Linked DNA regions of Homo sapiens: all the other regions are linked to region 2. The links come from fine-mapping of genetic effects on gene expression. A gene starts in region 2. Each other region holds a variant in brackets. All regions are shown on one strand. Distances are from middle to middle. Region 1 overlaps GGT5 (gamma-glutamyltransferase 5). Region 2 holds the start of SUSD2 (sushi domain containing 2). Region 3 overlaps CABIN1 (calcineurin binding protein 1).

Evidence for each region. PIP is the estimated chance that this variant, and not a neighbour inherited with it, causes the effect. A credible set is the group of variants that fine-mapping cannot tell apart.
Region 1: its variant is the best candidate, but not a certain one, in a credible set for the expression of SUSD2 in thyroid (GTEx, PIP 0.69).
Region 3: its variant is the best candidate, but not a certain one, in a credible set for the expression of SUSD2 in whole blood (INTERVAL, PIP 0.76).

The regions. Positions count from the first base shown.
Region 1 is chr22:24,216,426-24,226,256 of GRCh38, reverse strand. GGT5 (gamma-glutamyltransferase 5) reads left to right here. Exons shown (of 12, transcript NM_004121.5): 8 at 1-181; 9 at 605-711; 10 at 846-1,012; 11 at 1,151-1,261; 12 at 6,141-6,597. The coding sequence ends at 6,287. LOC124905090 (a long non-coding RNA gene) reads right to left here. Exons shown (of 2, transcript XR_007068023.1): 2 at 9,827-9,831. Among named protein-coding and RNA genes, the nearest start is that of GGT5, 24 kb to the left of the region's middle. The variant G/A (reference allele first, on the strand shown) is at 4,122.
Region 2 is chr22:24,176,708-24,186,538 of GRCh38, reverse strand. It overlaps SUSD2 (sushi domain containing 2), which reads right to left and starts at 5,052. Exons shown (of 15, transcript NM_019601.4): 1 at 4,944-5,052; 2 at 3,272-3,482; 3 at 2,893-3,044; 4 at 2,236-2,403; 5 at 1,599-1,773; 6 at 1,244-1,445; 7 at 968-1,053; 8 at 610-878; 9 at 380-523; 10 at 124-282. The coding sequence starts at 5,019. CABIN1 (calcineurin binding protein 1) reads right to left here. Exons shown (of 37, transcript NM_012295.4): 36 at 8,722-9,035; 37 at 7,911-8,486. The coding sequence ends at 8,343. RefSeq lists enhancers at 2,823-2,932, 3,003-3,082.
Region 3 is chr22:24,099,619-24,109,449 of GRCh38, reverse strand. The region is part of intron 26 of CABIN1 (calcineurin binding protein 1); the gene reads right to left. Among named protein-coding and RNA genes, the nearest start is that of SUSD2, 77 kb to the left of the region's middle. The variant C/T (reference allele first, on the strand shown) is at 6,209.

The sequences.
Region 1 (9,831 bases), 40 kb before region 2:
GGGACCTGCTGGGGGAGACCCTGGCCCAGCTCATCCGCCAACAGATCGATGGCCGGGGGGACCACCAGCTCAGCCACTACAGCTTGGCCGAGGCCTGGGGCCACGGGACAGGCACGTCCCATGTGTCTGTGCTGGGGGAGGATGGCAGCGCCGTGGCTGCCACCAGCACCATCAACACACCGTGCGTAGGGCCTGGGGGAAGGCGGATGGCTTCACTCCTCCTCTCCTAGACCTGCACACCCCCAGCCCCATGTCCCCTCACTTGTCCCCACGGGGCAGCACCTTGCTTTTGCCCTTTTTCTCCTCCTCTATTTCAAAAGAGGCCCCCACCCCTGACATCTCTGGCTGGAAAGGCTGCTGCTGGGGTGGCCCCGACCCAAGATTTACCTGGGAATGGGTAGCCTCACTCAGAAGGGTGCCCTGATGTGGGGGCACAGGTGGGTCTTTGGGGACCCCTCCTGGGTGGTGCCAGGGAGAGAATAGCGGCTTCAGCATGCTTCGGGGCAGCTGTAAAACGAGGGGGTCCTGCAAAGCGTGCAGGGTAAGTGGTGTCTGGTGGGAGCCCCGGGTCCTAGCCCAGGCTCTTCTGCCTCCACGGCTGCAGCTTTGGAGCGATGGTGTATTCACCACGGACAGGCATCATCCTCAACAACGAGCTCCTGGACTTATGCGAGCGATGCCCCCGGGGTTCCGGCACCACCCCCTCACCTGGTGAGAACAAAGCTTCCCACCCGGGGTCCACAAGGGCCCCCCACCAGGGGAGAGGAGGGAGGGGGCTGGGCTGGGGTTGCATGCTAACCCCTGGATGGGTCACTGCACTTGCCAAGACGCTGTTTGCTCAGCAGTGAGTGGAGACAGGGTGGGTGGAGCTCCCGGAAGGTGCTGGCCCCCAGTTCCAGGCGAGCGTTCCCCATCCTCCATGGTGCCCTCCATCTTGATCAACAAAGCCCAGGGGTCGAAGCTAGTGATTGGCGGGGCTGGCGGGGAGCTCATCATCTCTGCTGTGGCCCAGGTGAGTCTGGGGCTCCTGGCTCGAGTGTCTCCTCTCTGGGCAGCATACTGTCTGACTGTCTCTGGAGTGGGGATGTGAGGGCTGATGTAGGGTAGCAGGGTGCCCCCTTTCTCCCTGAAACCCTCATCTCTCCCCCAGGCCATCATGAGCAAGCTGTGGCTTGGCTTTGACCTGAGAGCGGCCATTGCAGCCCCCATCCTGCATGTCAACAGCAAGGGCTGTGTGGAGTACGAGCCCAACTTCAGCCAGGTGAGGCTGAGGTCCGAGCTGGATGCCTAGGGCAGAGCCCACTCCCCAAATCCGTGCTGCTCAAAGCCACCTGGGAGGAACTCAGTCACTGAGATTCTTAGGCCAGGTACACTTCAACTTTGGGGGCCATAGGAGTTGGGGACCTTGATGGGTGAGGCTGTCAGTGGCCTCCAGGCCAGTTCTGTGGCCTCCAAGACAGAGAGCAGGGTATTGTCTATGCTGCTCCCAGGCTGAGGATCTCAGCACCTTGGTCTCTGGTCTGTGGTTGATGCCATTTTTCAGAAGTGAGTTTTCCTGGCTGGGGCCTCTCAGACTCTCCCTCATGGTGACTTTTTCCTTGTGTGATTTGTAACTAATATTTGCAACTTTATTTGTGAAAGAGGTTGTTTTTCCTGTGACAGTCTGTAAAGTGATTTTCTTCTGGGGCACTAGGGCATTGGTGGTAATTTTTACTATATATATAATTTTTTTTTTTTTTGAGACAGCATCTCACTCTGTTGCCCAGGCTGGAGTGCAGTGTTGCGATCACAGCTCACTACAGCCTTGACATCCTGGGCTCAAGTGATCCTTCCTCCTCAGGCTCCCAAGGAACTAGGACTACAGGTGTGTGCCACCACACCTGGATAGTTTTTATTTTTTTGTTTTTCGTAGAAACAGGGTCTCTCACCATGTTGCCTAGGCTGGTCTTGAACTCCTGAGCTCAAGCAATCTTCCCGCCTTGGCCTCCCAAAATGCTGGGATTATAGGCGTGAGCCACCATGCCCAGCCTACAAACATTTTTTTTGATTCCCCACAGAAGCCCATGGTGCAGCTCCAGGGGCTGAATTCTTCTGGCTGACTCCCCCTCTATCCTTAGACAGAGACTCAGCTTCCTTGGAGCATCTTTGGGTTGATGGATGCCCTTTGTTAGGACCTATTTAAAAGATTGATAGTGGCCGGGCATGGTGGCTCATGCCTGTAATCCCAGCACTTTGGGAGGCCGAGGCGGGTGGATCACCTGAGGTCAGGACTTCCAGGCCAGCCTGGCCAACATGGTAAAACCCTGCCTCAACTAAAAATACAAAAATTAGCCAGGCGTGGTGGCACACACCTGTAATCCCAGCTACTCGGGAGGCTGAAGCAGGAGAAACACTTGAACCCAGGAGGTAGAGGTTGCAGTGAGCCAAGATCGTGACATTGCACTCCAGCCTGGGTGACAAGAACAAAACTCCATCTCAAAAAAAAAAAAAAAAAAAAAAAAAGATTGATAGCAGCTGAGGTTCCAGATCGTCAAAGCTGCCTCTCCTGTTATGAGACTTCTTCGGTCTCAAGTCCACCTTCCAAAGCCCTTAGAACCTGAGAACCATGGCCTTAGTCCAGGAACAGAGTGTAGTCCCAAGAGCCTTAGTTTTCAGACCTTGAGACTAAGGACCTCAGCCTGTTAGGCTCAAACTCTTGGAGTTTGCAGGCCTCCCTCCGCATGTAGGGTCCTTCGCATGACAGGAAGACCCTCTCAGGGCTCTCGGGTTCCAGGGATCTTAGATATGGAGGATTTCAAGATCCAGGGCACATCCTTTGGAGCCCTCCTCCCTTGACTCTTTTTTTATTTTTATTTTTTTAGACAGTCTCACTCTGTCACTCAGGCTGGAGTGCAGTGGCATGATCTTGCCTCACCACAACCTCCGCTTCCCAGGTTCAAGCAATTCTCCTGCCTCAGCCTCTGAGTAGCTGGGACTACACATGTGCGCCACCACACCTGGCTAATTTTTGTATTTTTAGTAAAGATGGGGTTTCCCCATGTTGGCCAGGCTGGTCTTGAGCTCCCAATCTCAAGTGATCTGTCCACCTTGGCCTCCCAAAGTGCTGGGCTTATAGGCATGAGCCACTGTGCCTGGCCCTCCCTTGACTCTTTTTTTTTCTTTTTTTTGAGACGGAGTCTCGCTCTGTTGCCCAGGCTGGCGTGCAGTGGCACGATCTTGGCTCACTGCAAGCTCTGCCTCCCGAGTTCACGCCATTCCCCTGCCTCATCCTCCCGCCTCATCCTCCCAAGTAGCTGGGACTACAGGCACCCACCACCACGCTCGGCTAATTTTTTGTATTTTTAGTAGAGACAGGGTTTCACCGTGTTAGCCAGGATGGTCTCGATCTCCTGACCTTGTGATCCGCCCGCCTTGGCCTCCCAAAGTGCTGGGATTATAGGCGTGAGCCACCGCGCCCGGCCCCTCCCTTGACTCTTGACTGAAGGACCTTTGTCTTTGTGAACATCAATTCTCAGGACCTTTCACCCTGGGGACGTGAAATGCTGAGAATTTGGGAGATGACAGTCTGGGGACTGGGATTAATGGAATCCAGTGACCCACAAACCTAAGGTTCTCAGCTCCCTTGGGGAGTTGGAATGTCAGCTATTCAGGTCTAGGGCTTTCCATGGAGTAAATCCTAAACTCTGGGTTGGAGACTTTAAGCCTCCAAGGACCTTCACAGCTAAGGCCCAGGGACTAGGGCGAGGAGAGTCTTTGATCCTCAGAGTCTTGGAGTTTGGCCAGTGGACTCTGAGGAATGGAGTCTCTGAGCACTGAAGGTCCAACTTTGGCTTCAGCAGTAAAGGATCTTGGCCTTCAAGTCTAAGGACAGTGGGCAATTAGTAGGTCAGGCATGGGGAACTCATAGCCAAACGTGCAGGGCTCCAAAGACCTCATTTGCCCTGTCAGCAGCTCAGGCCATGTGGCATCACCCGATGCATCTAGATGTCTCCGGAATCTCAGGCCCTGCAGGGTGAGGTTCTCGGGCCATTAGTTTTTTTTGTTTTGTTTTGTTTTGTTTTTTTGGCTTGTTGTTGTTGAGACAAAGTTTCACTCTGTCACCCAGGCTGGAGTGCAGTGGC[G/A]CGATCTCAGCTTATTGCAACCTCCACCTCCTGGGTTCAAGCAATTCTCATGTCTCAGCCTCCCAAGTAGCTGGGATTACAAGTGTGTGCCACCAAGCCTGGCTAATTTTTGTATTTTTAGCAGAAACAGCGTTTCTCCATGTTGGCCAGGCTGGTCTCAAACTCCTGACCTCAGGTGATCTGCCCACCTTGGCCTCCCAAAGTGCTGGGATTACAGGCATGACCACCGCGCCTGGCTAGGGAGCAGTGTTTTTAAGGACAACTTGGCGGGTTGGGGGAAGCCAATGAGCCAGGAGTGCTGATAGGTCAGGGATGAAATCATAGGGAGTTGGCTGCGCGCGGTGGCTCCCGCCTACAATCCCAGCACTTTGGGAGGCTGAGGTGGGTGGTTCACCTGAGGTCAGGAGACCAGCCTGGCCAACATGGCGAAAACCTGTCTCTACTAAAATTACAAAAATTAGCTGGGCAAAGTGGCAGGCATCTGTAATCCCAGCTACTGGGGAGGCTGAGGCAAGAGAATCACTTGAACCTGGGAGGGGAAGTTGCAGTGAGCCAAGGTCGTGCCATTGCACGCCAGCATGGGTGACAGAGCGGGACTCCATCTCAGAAACAGACACACACAAAAAACCCCTGGAAATCATAGAATCATAGGGAGTTGAAGCTTTCTTCTTGAGCTGAGTCCGTTCCTGGGTGGGGGCCACAAGGTCAGATGAGCCAGTTAATCGATCTGGATGGTGCCAGCTGATCCATCAAGTGCAGGGTCTGCAAAATTTCTCAAGCACTGATCTTAAGAGCAGTTTAGGGAGGGTCAGAATCTTTAGCCTTCAGCTGCGTGACTCCTAAACCATAATTTCTAATCTTGTGGCTAATGTGAGTCCTACGAAGGCAGTCTGGTGCCCAGGCAAGAAGGAAGTCTGCTTTGGGAAAGGGCTGTTACCGTCTTTGTTTTAAACTATAAACTAAGTTTCTCTCAAAGTTAGTTCAGCCTACACCCAGGAATGAGCAAGGACAACTGGGAGGTTAGAAGCAAGATGGAGTCGATTAAGTTAGATCTCTTTCCCTGTCTCAGTCATAATTTTGCAAAGGCGGTTTCAGTCTTGCTGTTTTGCCCAGGCTGGAGTGCAGTGTCATGATCAAAGCTCACTGCAGCCTCAAACTCCTAGCCTCAAGGGATCCTCCTGCTTCAGCCTCCTGAGTAGCTGGGACTATAAGCACAGGGCCACCACATCCGACTAATTTTTTCTTTTTTCTTTTCTTTTATTTTTTAATAAAGACGTGATCTTGCTACATTGCCCAGGCTGGTCTTGAACTCCTGAGCTCAAAAGATCCTCCTGCGCCGGCCTCCCAAAGTGCTGGGATTACAGGTGTGAGCCACCACGCCCAGCCCAATTTTTGATTTTCTTTTAGAGACGGTGTCTTGCTTTGTTGCCCTGGCTGTTCTCAAACTCCTGGCCTCAAGTGATCCTGCCACCTTGGCTCCCAAGTGGCTAAGACTGTAGGTATGTGCCACCACGCCTGGCTTTTTTTTATTTCTTATTTTTTATTTTTTAGAAACAGGATCTTGCTGCATTGCCCAGGCTGGTCTCAAACTCCTGGCCTCAAGTGATCCTCCTTCCTCAGCCTCCCAAATTGCTGGCATTACAGGTGTGAACCACTGTGTCTGGCCTCAGTGTCTAAATCTTGAGAAGCCACATCCTCCATCGAAGGCCCCCTGAACTCAGATTTGCACCTCAAGGCCCTGGTGTCCTTGGATCCAGAACAGACATGAACTTGCATTTGGAGGTCTTCGGGCCTGGGTGGTGTCCTTCGTACATAGTCCCTGGAGGCTGAGCTTGTCCTCTATGGGCCTTTGGATCTCTTCCATGCTCCCATCTGGTCCTCCCCTCTTCCTGTGTCTTCAGGCCCTCTTCCTCTCCGTCTTGCCTTTTGATCATTTTTCTCATTTCTTGCAGAGGCCTCTCCCTCCTGGAGATGGGCTGAGCTGCCCTCCCCTGTGAACCTGCTTTCTCTCCTCTCCAGGAGGTGCAGAGGGGACTCCAAGACCGTGGCCAGAACCAGACCCAGAGGCCCTTCTTCCTGAACGTGGTCCAGGCTGTGTCCCAGGAGGGGGCCTGTGTGTACGCCGTCTCGGACCTGAGGAAGAGTGGGGAGGCCGCAGGCTACTAAGACACTGCTCTGCCCAGAGCTGAAGTCTGGCCCCACCATGAGTCCTGTGTCCAGGCCGGACATGGCTGGGGGACCAACTACTCTGGCAGGATCTGGACCCCTGGCAGGGGAGTCCAGCTGAGAGTGGAAGAGGTGGCGGGGACCAGCTGGGCAGATGAGAGGCTGAGCCTCATCCCTAACCCCCTTTCCCAGAGCCCCTGGTGGTCCTGAACCGGCCCCTCTATCCCTCCGCAGGCCTCTTGCCTGGGGCCACTCTCCCACCCTCTCGATCTGTATATCCTCCAGTCCAAGATTAAAGAGGCGGACTGTGGCCTGATTCCATGGTTCTAAGTGGGGAGGGGACCCTCGGACAGTGCACAGAGGGGTGCATGCACCAGGCTCCTATGGCTCTCCACATTCCACCACCATGGAGGTGGGGAAACTGATGCTCGTGGACCAGCCGAACCTCAGCCAGGCCACCCCTGGACAGAGACAAGCACCACCTCTGCCTCCCAACACCTCACCACTCTGGTGGCCAGGACTCAGCAGCGTGACTGGCCCCAGACCTGAGAGCTGGTTAACTGAAAAATCACACAATTCACAAATTTGGAAAAGAGACTTTTTTCTTTCTTCTTTCCTTTCATTTTTTCTTTCTTTCTTTTTTCTTTGAGATGGGGTCTTGCTCTGTCATTCAGGCTGGAGTGCAGTGGTGCAATCACGGCTCACTGCACCCTCAACCTCCTGGGCTCAAGCCATCCTCCTGCCTCAGCCTCCCAAGTAGCTGGGACTACGGGTGTGCAACACCACACCTGGCCAATTTTTAAAATTTTTTTTGTAGAGACAGGGTCTCGCTATGTTGCCCAGGCTGGTCTTGAACTCCTGGTCTCAAGCCATCCTCCCTCCTCGGCCTTCCAAAGTGCTGGGATTAAGGTGTGAGCCACTATGCCCGACAAGACTTTCTTTTTTTTTTTTCCTTCAACTTGTGTTTTGAGTTCAGGGGCCCATACGTAGGATGTGCAAGTTTGTTACATAGATAAACATGTGCCTTGGTGGTTTGTTGCAGAGATCAACCCATCACCTAGGTATTAAGCTCAGCATCCATTAGCTATTCTTCCTGAAGCTCTCCCCCATCCCCCAACTTACTTTCTTTTTTTTTTTTTTTCTGTGAAACAAAGTCTCACTCTGTTGCCCAAGCTGGAGTGCAGTGGCAAAATCTCAGCTCACTGCAACTTCTGCCTCCCAGCTTCAAGCGATTCTCCTGCCTCAGCCTCCTGAGTAGCTGGGATTACAGGTGCGTGCCACCACACTCGGCTCATTTTGTATTTTTTGTGGAGATGGGGTTTCACCATGTAGCCAGGTTCATCTTGAAATCCTGACTTCAAGTGATCCGCCTGCCTTGTCCTCCCAAAGTGCTGGGATTACAGGTGTGAGCCACAGCGGCAACTTTATTTTTCATAAAGGGTTACAGACTGCAGGGTGGCCATCCGCCACTTTCAAAAGCATAGCCTCTGGCAGAGACCAGAGACAGGCACTTCTTTTTTTTTTCGAGATGGAGTCTCGCTCTCTTGCCCAGGCTGGAGTGCAGTGGCACGATCTCGGCTCACTGCAAGCTCCACCTCCCAGGTTCACGCCATTCTCCTGCCTCAGCCTCCCGAGTAGCTGGGACTGCAGGCGCCCGCCACCACGCCCGGCTAATTTTTTTTGTATTTTTAGTAGAGACGGGGTTTCACTGTGTTAGGCAGGATGGTCTCGATCTCCTGATCTCGTGATCCGGAGATAGGCACTTCTAAGGAGGAGAGGTTGGGGCAGGAGCTGTATGCTGAAGGGGTTGGCTAAACATACATATTCAACATGTTACAGGGAGAGCTATGAATATTCATGAAGGCAGTCTTGACACATGTGTATTGAACGAACATGCATGTAACATAGGACTCATGTTTGCTGTAGGATGAAGACGGTGGAGACTTAACATTAAAATGTATTACAAGGTCAGGCACGGTAGCTCACGCCTATAATCCTAGCACTTTGTGGAGCCGAGGCGGGTGGATCACATGAGGTCAGGAGTTCAAGAGCAGCCTGGCCAACATGGTGAAACCCCAACTCTACTAAAAATATAAAAATTAGCCGGGCACAGTGGCGGGCGCCTGTAATCCCAGCTACTCAGGAGGCCAAGGCAGAAGAATTGCTTGAACTCAGGAGGCGGAGGTTGCAGTGAGCCAAGATGGTGCCACTGGACTCCAGCCTGGGCAACAGAGTGAGACTCCATCTCAATAAAATAAATAAAATAAAATAAAATGTATTACAATTAGGCCCCATCTGTCAAAACATCTTTTCAGGGCCTGAAGGCCTGCAAGTGAGCAACTTCTGAAAACCAGCCAGAGCCAGTTCATGGTCAATGGTCTCTTATCAGGAGAAAGTTACTGAAATCAGTCTCTTGTCCAGTCGGAGCTGTAGTTATGCCTGGAAAAACAGGGGGTCAATAAGTTGGCATCCGTGAGCTGGATGAGCTGCAAAGTGTATTAATGTTGCTTCAGGCCGGTGCTTGTTGCTGCTGGAGGAAAAGGAAAGCCTCATTGCTGTTAGAACATAGTTTATTCTTTAAGTGCAGGGTCCATGAATTAACCCCTGCCTGGCTTGGCCTTGGGTCCTCTTTATAATTTGGTATCTTGTTGCCACAGAGTCTGTTCTGTCATTTTTTTTGAGACAGGGTCTGGCTCTGTCACCCAGGCTGGAATGCAGTGGCATGATCTTGGCTCACTGCAGCCTTCACCTCCCTGGCTTAAGCCATCTTCTCAACTCAGCCTCTCAGGTAGCTGGGACTACAGGCACAAACCACCATGCACGCTGCCGTGCTCAGCTAATTTTTTTTTTTTTGAGACAGGGTCTCACTTTATCACCCAGGCTGGTGTGGAGTGGTGCAGTCTCAGCCCACTGCAGCCTCGACCTCCTGGGCTCAAGCAATCCTCCCACCTCAGGCCCCCAAGTAGCTGGGAGTACAGGTGTGTGTCACCACATCCGGCTGATTTTTTGCTTTTTTTGTAAAGATGGGGTTTCACCATGTTGCCCAGGCTGGTCTCAAACTCCTGGCTTCAAGCAATCTTCCTGCTTCGGCCTCCCAAAGTGCTGGGATTACAGGTGTGAGTCACTGCGCTTGGTCCTCATCCATGTTTCGAATGAAATGATTCTTTGTTGTGGGGGGCTGTCCCCACACTGTAGGATGTTGAGCAGCATCCCGTGCCTCAGCCTGTGTGATGCAGTAGCACTCCCCACCGCACACACCCACTCATGACAACCAAAACTGTCTCAAGACAGTGCCACATCCCCCTGGTTGAGAATGGCCGCTCTAAACCAACAGGCCCCTAACTTCCATAAATAGCTTTGCCAGCTGCAGGGTGGGTACGTGGTGCTCTCTGGGGATCTCACTAGAGGGATCTGGGACTCCTGCGCCTCACTGGTTCCTAGGAACATCGGCTGTTCCTCCATCACCCCAAATGTGCCACAGAGGTTGTTTTAGTCTGCCTGGGCTGCCATAACAAAAATACTGGAAAGTGGGTGGCTTATAGCA
Region 2 (9,831 bases):
ACCACCCAGGCCTCTAGCCAGGACTGGGAGAGGCATGAAGGCCCAGGGCTTCCCCTCAGTCTCCCTGCAGGAATGGGGAGGAGGTGAGGGCAGCCCGCAGCCTCGCGTGGCTGGACTGCTCACCTTTCAGGTCCATCCAGCTCTGCTCGGTGAAGCTCAGCACCTCCTGGTTCAGCAGCACCTCCAGACCTCCGGTCCTGTTGGCCAGCCTGACTTCCACCACATCTGAGTTGCCCTCCTGGACGGCCACTGCGGTCAGCCCAGTGCCACGGGTCTCCGTGCCTGCGGTGGTGGGAGCAGAACGGGAGCCACTTGGCTCCAGCCTCCCACCTTGGTTCTACCCCATGCCAACCAGAGCAGCCCCTAGCCCTGGCCTCACCGTTGGACATCGTCCCGGGCTGGGCCCGCGCCTGCACCCTCAGGTCGGTCAGCGCTGCCTCCAGCAGCACGTACTCTCCGCGCCCATTGAATGTGAAGTTGGTGCCGTCGAAGGTCACAAAGTGTGGGTCTCCGAAGGCGGAGGCTAGGGTGAGAGTGGAGGGTCACGTGGGGGTGCACCCCAGCCCAGCCCGATCTTTCCCAGGGTCTGGGGCACGGGATGGCACCCACCCAGTCTTGGGGGCCGGTAGTTGCGGCAGTCATTGGAGGGCCGCCGTTGCATGTAGCGGGGGCAGTCGGGTGCCCAGAGGCAGCAGTAATAGAAGCTGAGGACATCGTAGAGCCAGTGGGACATGCTGGGCACTCGGGGTGGCGTGCGGAACGGGGGTGCGCCCCAGTCATGGCCGCGGTCGGGAGTGCTGCCGCCGCTGGAGTCAGCTGTCAGGAGCTGCGTCCCGTCCGCTGTGTAGCAGCACTGCTGACCTGAGCCGTACCGGAGGCTGCAGGAGCCAGTGAGTCAGGGCCAGGCCACTGTTGGGAGCCCACCCCTGACCCCAATCCCCATACCGGCCCCAGCCTGGGGGCTCACCTGGCCTGCACAGAACGCACACAGTGCACGGCCCCGGGGTGGTAGGTGCACACGCTGCCCTGCTCCATGTCACAGCCGTAGTCCGTCTGCAGAGCAGCAGGTGGCTGTCACCCAGTGGCCTCGGGTTCTGTCATCCCCTCCCTGAGGCCAACCCTGCAGGGGTCCTGAGACCCCAGCCCCACCCTCCAGGACACCTCTGTCTGCCTCCCCTGGTGCTGTCCTCAGTGGGGAGGCTAACCCCTCATCCCCTCTCCTGGGCCCTGATGGGAGGCTCACGAAGAAGCGGCCGGAGTCAGCCCGGGCCTGGGTCAGGGTGCAGGGGCAGTCCGGCAGCTCCTCCAGGAAGTTGGGCAGCTGATCCTCCAGCTCCTCCCAGGCCTGGCACTGAGTTCGTGCCCAGGCCACAGGGTCCTCTCGGAAGTCATCGCTCAGGTGCCAGGCCAGTGCGTGGTCGTTGGTCCAGAGCGCCTGCACGTCCCTGTGGAGGTGATGATGCTGGAGCTGGGCCAGCCCACACCACCCCATGGTCGCCCCACTCTCCCCACCCCCAGCCTGGGCTGCCCAGGCAAGCATGATGGGCCTCGGGCGGCGAGGCCCTCCAGCCATCACCTGCACATCCATGCCTTCTTACTTCTGCCCTGCGTAATTTTTGCTGTCGATGATCCGAAGTGCACCCACTCGCCATCTCTGGTAGCTGGGAGGAGCAGGTTTTGGGGTGAAAGTGAAAGAGCCGGAGTTGGGGATGTGTGTGGCCAGGGGGTACAGGTACGACCACTTTGCAGTCCACTCCTGTGAGTAGGGCATTCCTGAGGGAGAGGATGCCTGGTTAGCCCTGGGGTTCCTTCGAGGCCTGGCCCCAGGCCTTGCCACCTACAGCAGCCTGACAGATGGGTGGATGGACCGCCAGGCGGTCCCCTTAGGAGGGGCTGTTCTAGCAGGGACCCCGGCTTGGGTGACCATCACCTCCTGCCACACTCCAGGATCCCTGTCCCTGCTGGAAGCTGGGCCCAGGGCCATGCCAGCCGTGCAGGGGTTCCTCATGAGCCTCCTCCCCTGGAGCCAGGCCCCATGAGCTGCCCCCTCCCACCTGCCTGACCCCCCTGACCTGCACTTCCCTCCATCCGAATCCTCAATCTCTGCCTGGAATTCCCTTCCCTCCTCAACCCCACCTGGAAACTCCCTTCCTCCTCCCACACAGCTGGGACCCCCTTTCTCCCCCTCTGGGGGCCCAAAGCTCTGATGCCACCCCAGCCCTCAGCTGGCCTCACCTGTCTCCTCGTAGCCCCACAGTTCGATGGTGATGGTCTGCGTGGGCAGCGACTTGACATGCCAGGTCAGGCTGAGGTTGCCTGAGGTGTTGGCGGTGCCGTAGTATTGCCAACGCGTCTCGTTCACCAACTCGCTCTTCTCCATCATTGACACTTTGTTGGGGTGCACTGGGCAGGGGAGGTGAGGGGTGAGTGAGGGCCTGGGCCCAGGGAAGCAGGGAGGAGGCCCTGAGGCTTCAAGGGCTGTGGGAGCCTCCAGGGCCAATGCATGGCAGCAGCTGGGTGATGGTCTCTCTGGCCCGCACAGCAGAAAAGGACGCTGAGGCCGCAGAGGCAGGGGCCTGCCCTCCCTCCACTGCCCACGCCTCTAGCCTCGACCTGGCTTCTCCCCTGCCCTGGCATGGCGGAGCTCAGTGGATAGGCACTGGCCCACCTCTCTAGGGACCCCTGCAGCTCCCACTCACTCTGGGCTGGGACCGCGGTCTGGATGCCAGGGAGTGGAAAGGAGCTGAAGGAACTCTCGCAGGCGGGCAGGCCTCCCAAGGGACTGGTTCAGCCAGAGAGGCAGGGCACGGACAGGCCAAGTCTCGGTGTGCATAGATTAGCGCTGGGGAAAGTCCCCGTGGGGGCAGGCTGTGGGCAGGGAGGAGGGCTCACCAGCCAGCCAGGTGCCCGCACGAGGGAAGGAGTGGCCGTTGTCCAGTGACACAGTGAAGGGGATGCGGCCGCTCTCATAGAGCAGAGGTGACACACAGTGCACTTGCCCGGAGGAGTCCACATGGCCGAGGGTCTGGATGCTGTCCTTAAACCTGTGGGCGTGGTGGTGGTGGGAGGGGCTGGGTCATTGCAGGCTGAGCCTCTCGATGGTCTGGGCCCCCAACCTCCCTGGGGAACCCAACCAGCCAGCTGTCCCTGTGCCCTCCTGCCTGTCCTGGGTCCGAGGGGCTCCACTCAGCCAGTCAGTGGGTCTGAGCCCTCAGCATGCACAGGGATGGGGGCGTGGGGCCCCAGTGCCCGGCCTCCTGGGCCTCCCAACCTGCAGATCACACTGGCGTCTGTGGGGCTGGACATCTTGAAGTGCCGCACCACAAAGTCCTTGCCGCCCATCATGGATCCTGAGTAGGGCAATATCTCCAGGCAGAAGTCCCGGAAATCCAAGCAGCAGGTGCCAAGGCCAGAGCACGTCGGGTGGCAGGAACATGGCCCGTCCAGGGCGCCACAGCGCATGGAGCAGCTCTCTTGGGCATCTGGAGGAGAGGATGCTGAGGGCCTGGCCCGGCGGGTACTGGACTGGCTGCCCCATGTGCAGGGCCTGTCTCTGTTTCTCCCACAGCCCATTAGACAGCAGCATCCCCAGGAGAACGCTGGCCAGGAACTGCACAGGCCACCAGGTGGACACAGTAGAAAGCCACAGGGCCCGTGGGGATGGGATGAATCTTAGCACAGACCATCTGGCTGTTGCCCTGACTGACGGGCTAGAATGCAGCGAGAAGAGGCAAAAAGCTGCATCCGCTCAGCCCTGCAGGGTCAGGAGAAGCCCCTGGGCATGACTGCCCTTCAGCCACCAAGTCCTCTATCCCACAGGCAGGGGTCCTCAGTGGGCCACGGTAGCTGGAGCCCTCGACCTCTCTTGGCTCCCCAGGGTGTCTGTGGTCAGCACGCCTTCTGGGGGCCCTGAAGCCTGCAGAAGAACCCCTCTTGCTTGCCTGGACTGGGGTGGGGGATATGGCTGCCAAGAGTCTCATTTGAGGCCTGGTAGGGAATGGTGCAGGGTCTGAACGTGACACTTCTCGCTCTCCCAGGGGCTGCAATTGAGACCCCAAAGAGAGCTCCGTGCTCAGGGCAGAAGGCCAGGGCCGCTCCCCTCCTTTCTGGGGAGAGGAGGGACATTTCAAGCAGGGGTCCCAGCAGTGGGGAAAGGGAAGTGGGGGTGCACACCACAAGGGGCTGTGGGCGCCGGGCCCAAAACTTCTCCTATGGGCCATAAGACCGGTGGGCAAGGCCATATTTCCAGGGGCTGGCATGAAGGAAGGGTTGCAGGGAGGGACTGGGGCAGGTGCATGCACCCAGGCTGGAATTGCACTTCCCTGGCCCTTCCCCATCCCCCATCAAAAGAGGCCAGTCGAGGGCCAGGCCTGGGCCTGAGCCACCCCGCTGGCCCCACTTCACCAAGTGCAGTGCCTGGCACTTAAAAGCAACAATAAATATGTACTGGCCAAGGATTTGGTGGCGCACAGGGGTCGGGGGAGGAGGCCGAGAGATGCTTGCAAGTGAGATAAGTGGCAAGAGGGTCGATGGGAAATGGGGTGGGGGACGGGGGGCAGCCTGGGACCAGTGTCCTGGTTCTGGAGTTCGGGGCTTTCCCTAGACTTTCCTGGATTCAGCCCCACCCTGATGAGGACCCACAATCCTGGCTCCCCCTCCGTGATCCCGCCCTGTCAGGGCTGGGGACACAGGCGGAGGCCTCTGCTGGTCTCCCCCGCCTCCCTCCTAGCTACCAGCAGGTTTAGGGTGGGCCCGGCTCAGACCTCCCATCCCCATGGGCTGCCCCTCCACATGGACCCTCAGAATTTCTTCCCATCACCCCTAGCACAGCCACAGATGGCCTGACAGATGGACAGAGGCTGAGCCCAGAGGGATGTCAGCCCAGGCCTGGCTGCAGACAGATGGACAGACAGACGGGGACACAGAAGGGCAGGGAGGCATACCTGCTGTGGGTCCGGGGCCCGGGCCGAGGGCTGTCGCCAGCAGCAGCAGGGCCCAGGGCAGGAGGGCTGGCTTCATGGTGCAGCCTGTGTCTGCAGCCAGCAGTGCAGTGGCTCCGAGGCGAGGCGGCCAGACAAGCTCACTCCCTGCTGGCCTGGCCCCGCCCGCCCTGCACTCTGCGGCACCGCCCCGCCCCGCCCCTCCCCGCCCCTCCCCACCCAGTCCCCTCTCAAAGTCCACAGGTGCCTGCGTGGACCAGCAAGGCCCAAGTTGCCCCGTTAGCACATTCCTGGCCCGCAGGCCTGGATCGGCCCTGGGACCCTGTGGGAGGGTGAGGAGGCCGGAGCCTCCAGCCACAGGACCTTTGGCAGGCGATGAGCCGGATGTCCAGAGGGCGAAGCTCAGACCCTGGGTCCCAGCCCCGCCTTGCATGCAGGGCGAGCCCGGCGGGGCTGAAGCAGAGGATGGGATGCGCAGGGTGAATAAGGCAGGGCTGTTTTAGCTCCAGGGAGGATTCCAGACTCTGTGGCCCTGACATAGACCTCCATCTCTAGCCCTCATCTTCCTGCAGGAAGGAGGTGCACCCAACTCATCCTCAGGGGGAGGCAGGAGCTGTTTGGGTCAGACACAGGCTGAGCCCTGGGGCGGAGGCAGCTCTGCAGGGGTCCCCTCTGGAGGGAGGAAGGAGGAAGGGGAGAGAAGGTACCCAAGCCCAGCGGGGGGCCCGGAAGGGAGACAGGGCCCATCCCCGGGCTCCAGAGATGCCACCACCCTGGGGAGCCTTGGCTGTCCCAGCCACACCTAATCCTGCCGCTAAGAGTTTGCATAATTTAATCAGTATTCACCTCCCTTCTTGAGCAGATGAGGAAACTGAAGCTCAGATGCGGATAGGCAAGGCCGAGCCAGGCCCTTGGTGGCTTCTGGGAGCCCCTGCAGCCAGGGCGGGTGGTAAGGGCTGCGGCCTGGGACTGGTCATTTGGACCCTGACACCTGGGCTGGACATCCAGACAGGCGGGTGGTCCTCTCCCAGCTGCAGCTTCTCAAGGTGTCCAAAAGGGACCCTTGCCACACTTGCAGGGAGTCAGAGGTGGCCCCAGGGCATGAGCTTAGGCCATCCGGTCTGTGATCTGCCCCAGCGCTTGCGGCCAGGCCAGCCCATTGTTCCCCGGCCTGTTCTCTCTCTTGCCTGGGTGGTGCCTGCTGGGAACCACAGGGTGTTGGCAGCCACCCGTGGCTCCAGAGAGGTGGCCCCTACTGAAAGTGTTAGAGGCGTGTGCTGGGGGACTTGGCTCCTGAGTCCCCACACAGAGCTGTTCCAGGGAAGCCACACCCGCATTTGATGTTTTCCCACCTCCCAAAGACATTTGGTGAGAGGCCCCCAAGACCTTCAGCTTCTCAGGGACTGTCTCCAGAGGGGAGAAAGTCCCTTAACCCACAATGGCGCTCAGGGCACCTCTGCAGGTGAGTGTCCTGTAAGTGGACGCTCAGGTGCTGAGCCAGGGAGAGCCTGTCTCCTGGCCCCAGGCTGGCGAGGGCATTCATCCCAGGCCCAGGGCTGAAGTTGCTCCCTACAGCACTGGGTGCAGGGGAGGGTCCGAGGTGTCCGTCCTCCTATAGGTGAGGCTCCAGGGAGGGGTGCTGGGGGATCGGCTGAGACAGTTCCCGGGAACTGGAGGAGGGAGAGCTGCTGCTTCCTGTTTTTGGCCTGGGCACCGTTGCTGCGCGTGTCTGGAGACAATGGAAGTGCGGTAGGGGCTAGGTGTGCAGTCTGGGAAGCTCCATACCCCAGGCCCTGCAGGGAGGGGGCGTCAGCTGAGTAACTGGGGCTGGCTTATCTCAGCCCCCCGAAAGGCGGGTTCAGCCAGACCCATCTGGGGCCACCAAGCCTCTGGTTCCAAAAGGGCGGTGCCCAGCCCTTTACGCCTTTCCTCCTGGGTGGTGGGCATGTCCAGCCCATGAGGGGCACAGGGCAGTGAGGAGGGTCCCCATCTCCATCCTGGACAGAGAGCCTGCTCCATGGGAGGTCCCAGGGCCAGGAGGGCCCCTGCGGTGCTGGGAGGGGAAGAGAGTTGTGAAGGGTGCCAGCTCTAGGGGCTTAATGCTCTGTGGGGCCTGCCTTAAAATCCTTAATCATTTTTGGTCAGACATGGTGGTGGCTCAGGCCTGTAATCCCAGCACTTTGGGAGGCCAAGGTGGGTGGATCACTTGAGGTCAGGAGTTTGAAACCAGCCTGGCCAACATGGTGAAACTCCGTCTATACTAAAAATACAAAAATTAGCTGGGCGTGTTGGCGTGTGCCTGTGATCTCAGCTACTCGGGAGGCTGAGGCAAGAGAATCGCTTGAATCCAGAAGGCGGGGGTTGCAGTGAGCTGAGATCGTGCCACTGCAGATCGTGCCACTGCATTCCAGCCTGGGAGACAGAGTGAGACTCCATATCAAAAAAAAAAAAAAAAAAAAAAAAAAATCCTTAATCCTTTTTGATCAAGGAGCTTCATATTTATGTCTTGCACTGAGCCCAGCTATTCTGTGACTGGCCCCATTAGGGCGACTGTGATGGGAGTTAAGTACCCTCCCTGCCGGCCCCATCCCCCCTTTCCCTCCCTGACAGCCCCCTCCTCCCAGCCTCTCAGCTGCCCCAGCCCTGCCTGCCCTCCCACCGTACAGCCTCCCACCCACTGGCACCCAGGTGCGTTCTGGGGATGCACCTAACTCCCCTTTGAAGCCTGGCTCCAGCTGCACTAGAGGCGTCTGCCTGGCCCAGCCCCGAGTCGGCTCTCTCCTTACCCCACTGGGCACCCCCAGCCGCTGCTTTGGTTGCCTGGCTGGTCCCTGAGATGCTGGAGAAGGAGGGGGGCTAGGCCCTGCCCTATGGACTATGGCAGTAAAGGCCCAGAATCCCTGGGGACAGCAACTCTCCGCCAGAGACTCTGCCAGATTGCCCCCTAGAGGTGAGCAAAGAGGCAAAGACAACTGTTCCATCTTTATTAGAAAAGCAACCAAAAAAAGGGTGAGGGGTGAGCCTGGCCCTAAAGGACCCCTCCACTGTGACACAGGCAGAGCCGGCTCATCCCGGCGTCGAGGGGTGGATATGGCCAGCTGGGTGTGGGCAGATTTACAAAGTCAACACTTCATAGAAAAGGATGCCGCCTGGCGTGCAGATGGCGACCAATCCACCTTCACATGGCTAAGGCGGGCCCCTCCTCCTCTGGGCTCCCATGTGGTGTGGACAGCCTGACCTGGGTACAGGGAGGATGCCATGAGGAGGTGGGCTGGGCAGGCCTGGGGGCTGTGTGGGGAGTGGCATCCATGTGGGCCTCTGGTCCTGCCCAGGGTCCTGCCCAGGGGGCATTCCAGGCCTGGCTGGTCCCCTGGGGCGTGGCGGTGGGGCTGCAGTGGCCCCTCAAATGTCCATGTAGTCGTCGTCCTCGTCTGTCTCGCTCTCCAGCGAGGACTCCTGGCTGGATGTCTCCAGGACCTCCAGGGCTGGCTGGCATAGGCTCTCCTTCCTCACGTTGGCAGCAGACTGGGCAGAAAGGATGGCTGACTGCGGAGAGGGCCGGGCGGGGCACTGGTCAAGGATGGCTGGGCTCTGCCCCAAGCCCCTCTGCCACCTTCACCCCTGCCCCAGGCCCCCCTCCCACCCTCACCCCTGCCCCAGGCCCCTATGCCATCCTCACCCACACCCCAGGCCCTCCTGCCACCCCCACCCCCATCCTAGGCCCCCTTTGTAACCTATGCCTCCCACCCACACATGGCTCCAGCCCAGCCCCTGAGGTCACCTTCAGCTTCTGCTTGGTCTCCTCCGAGATGCTGCCTTTGGGGGAGAGCAGGGTTGGGGTGGGTGGCGTGACGGTGATCTCAGGGGGGAACTTGGTGGCGGCGGAGGGGATGACCAGCTTTGGCATGTTGGGCAGGGGGCGGGACTTAGCCCGGCTGGGCTCAGGCTTGCCTGGGTGACCCTCTGGTGGCTGGGCACTCCCACTGCTGGGGGCCTTGGAGCTGGCAGCTGTTGGGGGAGAGCTCAGGGGCTGAGTCTCACTCGCAGCCTCCTGAGCCTCCCCATCCCTTCTCGGCTCAGGCCTCAGTTTCCCCTCTGGAAGACAAAGGTACCAAGAGCACTTCCTGCCTGCCGCATCACACAGTGAGCACTTTATCTCGCCCCCACCCGCTCCCCCCAGGTCCTGGGCCTTTATGCTGTGTAGTTTGTGCTGGCTGGCAGGCTCCAAGGCTTCTACCCTGGGCAAATACTTGGCTCAGGCCTGCAGGGACCCAACTCTGGCTCTGAGCTGTGGGGTGCTGGGACTGTGAACCTTACCCAGTAACACCATGAACTCAAAGCCCAGGACCTGAGACTCCCTGAGCCTTGCTGGGTTCTGTAAGACCTCCAGGCATCATGCTTGCATGAACTGTCGTATTTCCACAACCATCCTAGGATGCATGTCCTATTGGTGTCTATGCCCCAGGGAGGACACTGAAGCCCAGAGCTGGTCGCTCAGCCAGGCATGGTCACTGAGCTGGCCCCAGGGCATCCACTTTCGCCTCATCCTCCAGTGGGAGCAAGGGGCTGAGTTTGCCCAGAGCCTGAAGGCTGGGCCAGTTGCAGGCCTGGCAGCCTCTAGGGAGCTGCACGAGCTGGGAGGACCCGGCTGGCCTGGCTCGTCTCCACATTCCTCTGCAGCCCCATGGCTTTAAAAGGAATGGGGTTTACACAGAGCCCATGCCTGGCCCCCAGGGGCTGGCGCCAGGTCCTGCCATCCCAAGTGGTCTGTGGGAGGCCCAGGCCAGGAGGAGTCCCCAAGGGGTCTGGCTGGTTGGGGCAGCTGGTGGGAACAGGCCGGACTGAGGCCAGGGCTAGAATCTGACGTGGCTGTCGACGGGGACGCCTGCTT
Region 3 (9,831 bases), 77 kb after region 2:
GAGCCCAGCAGTTCAAGACCAGCCTGGGCAACATACGGAGATGCCCGTCTGTACAAAAAATTAAAAAAAAAAAAAAATTAGGCAGGCGTGGCAGTTACTTGGGAGGCTGAGGTGGGAGGATCACTTGAGCCCAGGAGGTTGAGGCTGCACTGAGCAGTGATAGTGCCACTGCACTCCACTCTAGCCTGGAAAAACAGAGCGAGACCCTGTCTAAAAAAAAAAAAAAAAGCAAAATATAAAGTTGTTTCAAAAAAGTTGAAAGCCTGGACTCTGGAAGATCCAGGCTGATAGAACTGAAATTCTGCTCTGTCACCTACTATCTCTGAGAGCCTCTGTAAATGCCATAATTATTTATACTTCAGTTTCCATGCATGTAAAACTGTGATAACATAAGCACCCACTTCACAGAACTGTTATGATTAACTAGGTTAATACACATAAAGTGTTTGAATCAGTGCCTAACAAACAGTAAAGGTTCACAAAATGTCAGTTTATCAATACTATTATTTCAGAGAACCTGAGCATGTTTTATCTCTTATGTCTCAAATGTGCCATTACAGCTTTAGGTCTGAATGAGCAGAGGGTTTTGCTGATGCCATATTGGAGCCAATACCTAAGCAGCACCATGTAGATGGGGGGGCAACATTGACACAACAGGCCTGTCAAAGTGGGATGGCCTGCACAGAGGATACTGAGGATCAGGTCTGTGCTCCAAAGGGTGCCCTGCTGCTCTGGCCTCTTTACCCATGTCTCATCATATACCAGGGTTTGGGGACAGTGACCTTGTAGGCATCCCTGCCATAGCCCTTCCTTCATAGCTGCCTTTGCCATGTCCACTGCCCAGGAACTGATGGATCATCAGTATCAGCTGGGCTGACAGAACAATGAGAAATGAGGACTTGGGACGTGTATAAGACCCCTGAGTGGAGGAGCACAGACCTGACCAGAACCTCTCTCTCACGCTTGTGAAAGGCTCTTCCCTGACTTACAAAGCCAGAATACAAGGCTCCATGAGCACTGAATGGCAGTTATGAGCAGGCCTGCAGCCCTCACAAAATGTCCCAAACTTGAGTCCCCAGCATGAGGGGATCAAGAAGAGGTGGGGCAGCCCATTTGCTGGCTGTGTGTAAAGGGAGGATTAGCAATGGGGACCCTCTAGAGGCCACGCAGGGTCATTGTAGGAGCTTAAGGGTTGGGCTCCCAGACCCACATTCCCATCCCAGATCTGCCACTTAGGGGTTGGGTGATCTTGGCCAAATGATTTTGCTGCTCTAGGCCCCCACTTCAGGTTTTTTAACACGATTGCCATTGTCTTCCTACCTCTGTCCCTGACACATACATGGGATCCCACAAAGGCGTGGCTAGTGCCCTGCACACAAGTGACAGCCCTGCAGCATTCACTCTGGCCCTGACAGTGAGAACACCGATGGCTTAGACAATGCTCGTGAGGCCTCAGAGTCTCTGAAAGACAGCAGGCCATGCCCCGCAGTTGAAGTCTCCCTGAAAGACAAGCTAGGGCTGGGTCTCCTCAGCCAGCCTGAGACTAGCTGAAGTCACTGCACAGCTCAGCAGCACATCCTGCGGCAAGCTCCAGGAAGCAAGCCTTGCTAGGATGATTTCACCGACTGGCAAGCTGCCCCACGAGCTCACCGGCTCACAGGCTCTTTTGGGCTCTGGGCCTAAAGGAATTGCCAATTTGGTGGAATCCCAGCTGTGATCATTATGAAAACTAAGGATTGGTTTAGGCAAGTAGATATTTACTCTCAAAGTGCTAACACCCTCTTGATGCTGCAATGTGAAGGAACCAGGATCCATCCAGCAGGCAGTGAAGGTGGCCAGACCTCACCAGGAACTGTGTGGGCAAGAAAGGACGGCATGCTGTGCAGGGGCTTCTGCTCCCTGAAGAACGACCACCAATTGAGTGGGGACTCTGCTGAGACTCTTAAAATAACATCCACAGCAGTGGAACAGGGCAAGCACAAGCCAAGGGACCTGGCAGGGACAAAAGGCTGCTGACTACACTTTGCCAGGCCCTTCCTGAGCCTCTCAGACACAGATGTGAGAATCTGGAACTGCCAACCATCTAAAAAACCAGAGAGCAGAGATTGGTACTGGCCCTGGGGGGCATTGTGGTGATTCTAGACAAACCCTTGTTTAAGGGGTAATCAAGGTACCTAAGTGGCCCTGAGGAAGGCTCTGCTAATGGGGCTCACCACAGTCTTGGGTGCCACCTGCAGGTCATGATGCTGGGGTGGGCTGCTGTGGCAGAGCTGGAGAGGCAGGGGCTATGTACACAGAGATGAGATGCCCAACTGGCCTGTGAAGCAAGCAGGTGGGGGAGGTGCTTGCCAAGGTTCCCGCCCACTACCAAGGGGGCAGCACCACAGGAAGGAGTCCAGGGATGTGTTATCTCTTCAAATGAGAGCCACCAAAAGGGACTCAAGGCCCAAGGCCCATTTTCTGCTCCTTTCAGATCTTGTGTGTCTGAAAGGGTTGGCACAGCCTATTTAAAATGACCCTGATTTCAAATACTAAAAGTCAACCCAAGGTTTCATACCAAGTTTCAAGCCAGTCAGACTGAAAGAACACCAAGTTTCAATTCTTTCACGTCAATAGGGCAAAAGGGATGAATGAAAAAGCTCTTAAAGAATGGCTCTATCTACCTGGGCAGACAGTGCCCCAGCCTCCATTCCTCCTCTTCTGGGGAAGCAAACTTTCTCTGGTACAGCTGACTGAAGACCTCAGAGAGGCCACAGACAGACAGAAAGACAGACAGACAGACATGAACAGTGGGGTAAGTTTGCCAGGAACATCGCAGAGCATGTGAAAAGGACCCTCATCCTGCCACCAGCTGGGCTGCTGTGGATGGGACAGCCCAGGGGCTGGGTGAGTCAAGGTAGGGAGGACAATGTGCCACAGTGCTGGGAAAAAGCTCTTGGAGAACAGGACCCCTGCAGTTGGATAAGCTGGCAGGGCAGGCAGCAGGGAGGGTTGTTTGGACTGTGGTGTGTAACCCAGAGCCACCCCCATTCCTGAAGCAGGAAGCCCCTGCTCTGGGAGGCCCCTGAAGAGGGGCAGGAGGAAAAGGAAGGATGCCGCTGACTACTGTCATCTCTCTACTCCCAGCAGGCCCCTCTGCAAGGTCATCTCTCAGGTTACCAGACCTGCAGCCAAGGAAGGGCCAGTGTGCACAGGGAAGGCTTCTGGGAGAAGAGGTCACAGGTCAAAGGCTTCTTCTCTGGGGTAGGACCCCCATCCATCAGCCATGTACCTTTGGGCAAGGACCACTCCCTGAGCCATACTCCACCCGCTTCCCAGACAGCTGAACGCAGCCTAGCACCATAATGCACCACTCTCATGCTGCCCAAGTGAACTGGGGAGTCTTTGAGTATGTGTGGAGAGGGAATTCTGGCCTCAGGAACAGCCTACAGGCCTGGCTCCAGTCCTACCTCCTCCACAGGATCTTTGGGATCCTGTGGCCCTAGGTTCAAATGGGCTGACATGCAACTTTGTGTGCTAATGGCCTGTGCTGAGCCCTCAGAGGACCGGCTGGGTCTGCCTGTGCTCTATAGACAAAAGCTGCCAAGCCTGGTGGCAGAGGCATTTTGTTCTCCTGCCTCGCCTAATAGAGCAAGGCCAGATGGAAGAAGTCAGAGTCAAGCTGTTTTTCTGTGGAGGGGCTTTTGGGTGAGGAGGGGGTTCTGGGCCCCCTGGTTCTGAGGCAGAGCAAGAGACAGATGGAAAGCCTCTTTGATGTAGGAGAGCCAGACTTAGCCTAAACTTCCTATGGGGCTGGGTGGAGAGAGCCTTCCAGGGAAACAGGCACCCTGGATGGAACCTCCAGGGACTGTCCACAGTCCAGGTATCTAGCCTTGAGACTCAGGAGCTGAGAGCTGATTTCTTTAGGGAGCTACTTGGAGGCCAACAGGAAAGAAGAATGGCACTAGCAAGCAGGCTATAGGTTGGCCTTGCTCTTTTTTTCAGAATGTTCTTTTAAAAATCTGCCCACACAAAACCTGCTCATACTAATTAATATTTGTGGCAAGATTATAAATATTTTATTGTTACTGTTAATTACTGGAATGTTTCGTGTCTATGCATCTGGGCCACGCCAGCCTTCCCTCTGAATCCTTAGGGGGATGTGCGTCTGCCAGCCAAGTGCTTATTAAACTGCCTCCCTCTAAGCTCCAGAACCTTCTACTTCCAGGGTGGGATTTGCAGGATCAACTGTAAAGGAATGACAGCTGGCAACGCAGAGGGAAAGAGACCTGGCTCAGTGACAGAAAGGCTGCCTGTCCCCACTCAGTGTGAGAAAAGACTCTGTGTTCTGAGTCCTCCTTGTTCAGGTCTGACTCAGCTCAGATCCCTTGGACAATCCCAGGATTCTCAGGCCAGCCTAAAAGAGCTCTTTAGTTACAAGATGCAACTTTCCAGTGTCTCTTTAAGTGTGTTTCCTCCATTTGCTCCAGCAGTAAGACCAGAAACAGCTCACGGCCATTTGTTCCATCAGCCTGGGGCAGTGAAAGCCTGAGGAAGAAGATGTATGCTTGTGCTACTGCAACAGCTCTGACTAGTGCCCCAGAAAAGACCACAAATGTCCTGCCGACCAGGAAACAACAGGTTTCTAAGAACCGTAAACTTGGGTGGAATTAGTATTTTGAGAAATTTTCTGACTAGATAAAAGCTGCCTCAGTCAATCCTGGCCAACCACAGGAAAAGAACACGTCCACCAGAAGCAAGGCTGGCCCGGGAAATCGGGGTGCCCATTGTCAGGCTGAGAAGACTGGATGGATGCCAAAGAAAAGTGGTACCAGAAACCTGGGGGCCCCTGAGAGAGAGGAAGATACACAGCAGGCAGCAGGTGGGCATGACGGCATTGTGTGAGGGCCAGGCTGCACCACTTGTCCATTCTTTGCCAGTGCTCACAGGTGAGGGCCAACTGAGCACTGCCAGGCACCTCGAAGCCTGGCAGACATATCAGAAGCCTGATATGTGTAGACACCATGGTGCTGCCCTGAAGGGGCCTGATGCTCGGAGGCCTCATCATGCATCTCTCATCCTGCCCTCTGAGCCAGGAAAGGCACTGACCAGGGAGGCCTCGGGAGGCTTTAAACATTTTCCTGACCAAAGGCAGGTGAACAGCCCCTCTTGATACAAATGCCAGAAGAAGCGAAGCAGTTCTGTAAGGTGTGAGGCTGGCATCCCCCAGCCATCTAGTGAGCTTCCCAGGAAGGCTCTTCAAAGGATGATGGGGGGAAAATTGTGCCTTCCTTAGAGCCCAGAGAGAGAGAGATCCTGTGACCACATCACTCTCCCTACTGCCCACAGGAAAGAGCCCAACCCTCAGAGCCCAGCTGCTTTCCCAAGCTCTCTCCCCTCAAAGTCTCTTTTTCATCCACCCCAGTCACCTCAGTATCCAAAAGCTGTAGGACTCTCCAAGCTCCATGTCTAAATGGGCCTGCAGGCCTCTCTAGAGACTCACCTTCTCCAGGAATTCTTCCCAACCCACCAAACCCCAGAACTTGCTCCCGTCTGCCAGCTCATGGCACTCCTCCTTGGCACCAACTACTGTCCCATGATACCATGGGACATCAGATCCAACCTGGGAGCAGGAATCAAGGCACCATCATCTTGACTTTCCCCATGGCACCCTTTTCCATGCCTGGCACACAACAGATGTTCAATAAATGCCGTGACCAGCTAACTCCTAAAGGTTTTCAAAAAGCTAAGAATGAAAGAAGAGAACAAAAGAGGTGAGTGGCTCTTCGCTGACAGCCTCCCCTGTCCCCTGCCCGTCAGGAACAAGCAGAACAAACTGAGCTCCACTTACAGTCTCTCCCACTTTGAGAAGGTCTGTTTAGGAATGGCACTCCAACCAGAAACTGACCTCCCCTTAGCCCTAGGAGGGGAGGTCACTGAGCAGAGGCCAGGGTGGGCCTGCCCTTTAGGACTGACTGGCATTCACAGCTCCCCGTCCTACATAGCCTGGCCCTGGTGGGCTGAAGACACAGGACCCACCTCAGAGCATCAAGGCTACTGTGCACAATTTGCATTTTTACACCTTTGTCCTTGTAAAGATAATTTGGTATGTTAGAGTCTGTTGCCTTTGTTGTTTATTTTAAAGCAAGAAAGAGCAAAGCAATGGAAATATAGGACTGGGCCACCTGCTGGAGGTGCAGGCAGGGGGGCAGTGGAGAAGAGGCCCCCA[C/T]CGCATCTGCCTCTGGCCAGAACTGGGAGGATAGGCCATCAGCAGAAGCCAAGCGCATCAAACACACTCTCCAAATCACAGGGCGAGCAGACATGAAGGTGCTCCTGGTCACAGGGGTAGCAGGGAGCCGGACTGAGAGCTGAGCATGCGGGTCTGCGCTGTTCCCTGAAGCGAGCCGTGACAGGTGCAAGCAGAAAGACAAAGCCTGGAGAACAGAGTGTGGTCAGGGTTAGGGGCAGCACGGGCAATATTGGTGGAGGCAGCATGGGGCGAACAGGCGAAGATGAGCACAGACGGCACACGACACAGACGGTGACAGCATGGAGGTTGAGGATGGATGGCCACAATGGGGGTTTGGCACAGGGCACCCTGGGCTCTCCAGTGAGGCCCACACCCTACAACCTGGGGCTCAAGGTAGCCTGAGACTCCTCAGCGGCTCTGTGCATGCTGTCAGTGGGACTAGGTAGGCATCACCACCCTTGGTGGATACCAGCCTCCAAGGCTCCCACTCTTCTGACCCTGGCTGCTCCCTCTCCCCAACCCCTCAAGAGAAACACCGACACACCCCTCGGATCTTGGCTAAACTTTGCCTCCTCGGAAAGGCCTCTTACCCCACCAACAGGCCCAGGTTTCTCTGGGATGAACAAACCCCACCTCTCTGGTGCTGGCATCAGTTGACCCCCAACCCTCAGCTATGTAACTGACTGATTTGCACCAACCTCCTCTACAGCAGGGACCAGTGCTGTTCTATGCACCTGGCACAGCACTGATGGAACCACCTGGATGGGCATGGCTACAGGTTGGCCAAAGACCATAGAGAGGCTCAGCCCCAGACTTACCACAGCACAAGGCCTCCGAGCTCTGAGGCCTTTTCTGGCTCTGGCATTCTGAAGTGACATGGAGCACGACAGGCAGAGAGCAAGGATTTTAGTCCAAGAAAGGCACTATCAACACATCCCAAAGCAGGGCTGAGCCAGGCCAAGTGACGAACCAAGCCATTCTGTAATGGCTAAGCTCTCTGGGCCCTCTGCTGAAGGACAAGGGAAACACACACAGATTCAGTCTCTGCCAGGCTGGCCAACCACAGGGCCTTCCTAGTGTCAGTCTCACCTCTGGCTAGGGGTGGAGGGAGATTCAGACCCAGTATCTCTTGGCTATACCCTGACTACAGCAGGCAGTTTTGGATGAGTGCCTACCTGCCCTCAGCTCAGGTTCCTCTTGGGGAAACAAGGGCATGACCGAGCCTGCAGGGCAGTTATGAAGATGGAGACATGCTACTACCCTGCAGGCACCTGCCCAGAGCCCAGCACAGAGCAAGCACACAGCATTGAGTGGTAGGGCGTAATTACACACGGGCACACACACACACACACATACATACACGCATACTGTACACAGGGTAGGGGTAGAGGTCTTGTTCAAAGATCTCCTTATGTTGCTTGAATATGTATAAAGAGTAATCACTGGGAACCCCCTGAAGGTCACAATGTGCTCCTCGGGTCACCTCGTTTTCCTGGTCAGGAAGCTTCAACATTAGGGATTTCAGCCCTGTGGGCAAATTCCAAGAGATTGACGGAAGGCAGAAGTTAGGCAGATGGGGAGCACAACCAGCCAGAGCTGCCAGCAGCACAGCAGAGGACAAAGCTTCTCTCTCTGTTGTTCTCTCTCTTGCTCTCTTTCTCAGCTTGGCCAGAGGTCAGCTGTGATGCCCTCCTGGCTGTTCCGTGAAGGGCTGGCTTTGACACCAGGCTGCGGTAGAGTCAGAGTGACCTGAGGGGCTGATTCCAAAGGCTTTTAACCAGAGTTATGCACAGGCTGCAGGATGCTCCCCACCCTAATGCAGGTGACACAAGGTTGCAGGTGAGGGTGGTTCAGAGAACAAATTTGGGTCCTATGAAGCAGCTATTATCAAATGTCAAACAACCCACATGTACCTGGAGCTATTTTTCTAAATCTTTTCTAAATCTTAAACCAAATCAGAATTGATCCTAGCTGATTTCTGGTTTTGAAGCAAAGGCATACCAATGTGGGAAGGCAGCTCCAATGCAAGGTCTCCTAACCATGCCCAAGGAAAGTCCTGACGCCTGGCTCCCTCTCCCACTGCTGGAAAGTTAATTGTTCTGTGGGGGTAGGAAACCAGGATCCAGAAAGCCCCATGCCCAAGCCCACTCAGGAGCTGCTGCTTCAGAGGACACTACCTCCACCTCTTGTGAGGCCATGCCACTAGCTGGAGAGAGGTGGGGTGCAAACTGAGGGGGACTGGCCCCAGAGCCCAGGCTCTTCCCTCTATGCAGTGCTACCTAGGTCTTACCCTAGTTCCACCAATGACTTGGAGAACTCCATCCAGGAGGTGGCTGCAATGTACAAGCACTTTTGTTTAATACCCATAACGAAGACATTACCCCATTCAACAGGTGAGGAAATTGAGAAGTGAAGTCCTTTGTCCAAGGTTGCAGAGCACATATGCAATGGAGCTGGGACTGGAAATCAGATCCTTTGACCAGGGCCTGCTGTGCACTTGCCTCCCTGTCTGACCTCCCCATCTGACCTCCCCGTGACTGCTTCTCCTCAGCTGTACCAGGGCTAGAAGCACCCATCACCCTCCTGGTAGTATAAGGGCTCAGTGGTGGCCTGCAATCAGTGCTGACGCCCCTCTCCTCTCACAGTAGACCCAAGGCTGGTCTCAGGCCAAGAAGCTGAGTGGAAACTAGGAACTACATGTTCTCCTCCCAGGAAGGAGAAGCAGGAACAGAGGTGGGCAGTGTGGCCCCTTGAGGCCACCAGCACATCCCCTGACACCAGCAATCTGCTGCTTCTCCCTGGAACCTGGGCCTTCCCCTAGGAACTAGTATAGCTGCTGAAAGGGCCACTTTAACATTCTAAGATCACAGCTATTTTAGGACCCCAAACATTTTCATGTTGCAGACACTGCTTTCTCTCAGAGGTGAGGCAGCTGAGTTCTGAAAGCATTATGCAGCCAGGCCTGGGCAGAGCACACAGGTGGCCAGTGCAGGGCTGGGACTGGGCAAAGATGGGCCATGGGATCCTGATGGCTTTGTGTCTTTGACAGGAATCACTTTGAAGACATTTTTTTTAAACAAATGTTCAAAACTGTGCAACCACTGAAACCATATTTGAACTTATTTGTATGGCTCCCTCTGCAAACTTCCAGAACAAATAACTAGCATGTTGGCACCCAGGACCTGTCATGCCCAGTTGTCATGCCTGAGTGATCTGCAGTGGCTCACCAACAGCTTCATGCACACATATGTGCCAACATGGGACAGCTGGCATCATGGCCCCCTTTCTGAGGCGCTCCTGCCTCCCTCCTTTCCTGCTTCTAGAGGCATACTCAACCCTAATGGGCTGACATCCAAGCACAGTGGCGCATGTGGCGTGACCTCAGTGGGAGCCTGCAGAGCTGCAGAGGACAGTGCTTGGGTTCCCTAGCCCAGGTGCATGTGAGCACGGCCACATGGCATGTGGACAACCAGGAAAGGCATTCCTCTCCTGAAAACTTTGGCATAGTGCTTCCTCCCAGGAAGCAGCTGGCAAAAACTAATTCCCTGAGAAGGGGTTTGCTGCTAGTATGTTTTCTCAATATTCTCAAGAGTAAAAGTTTG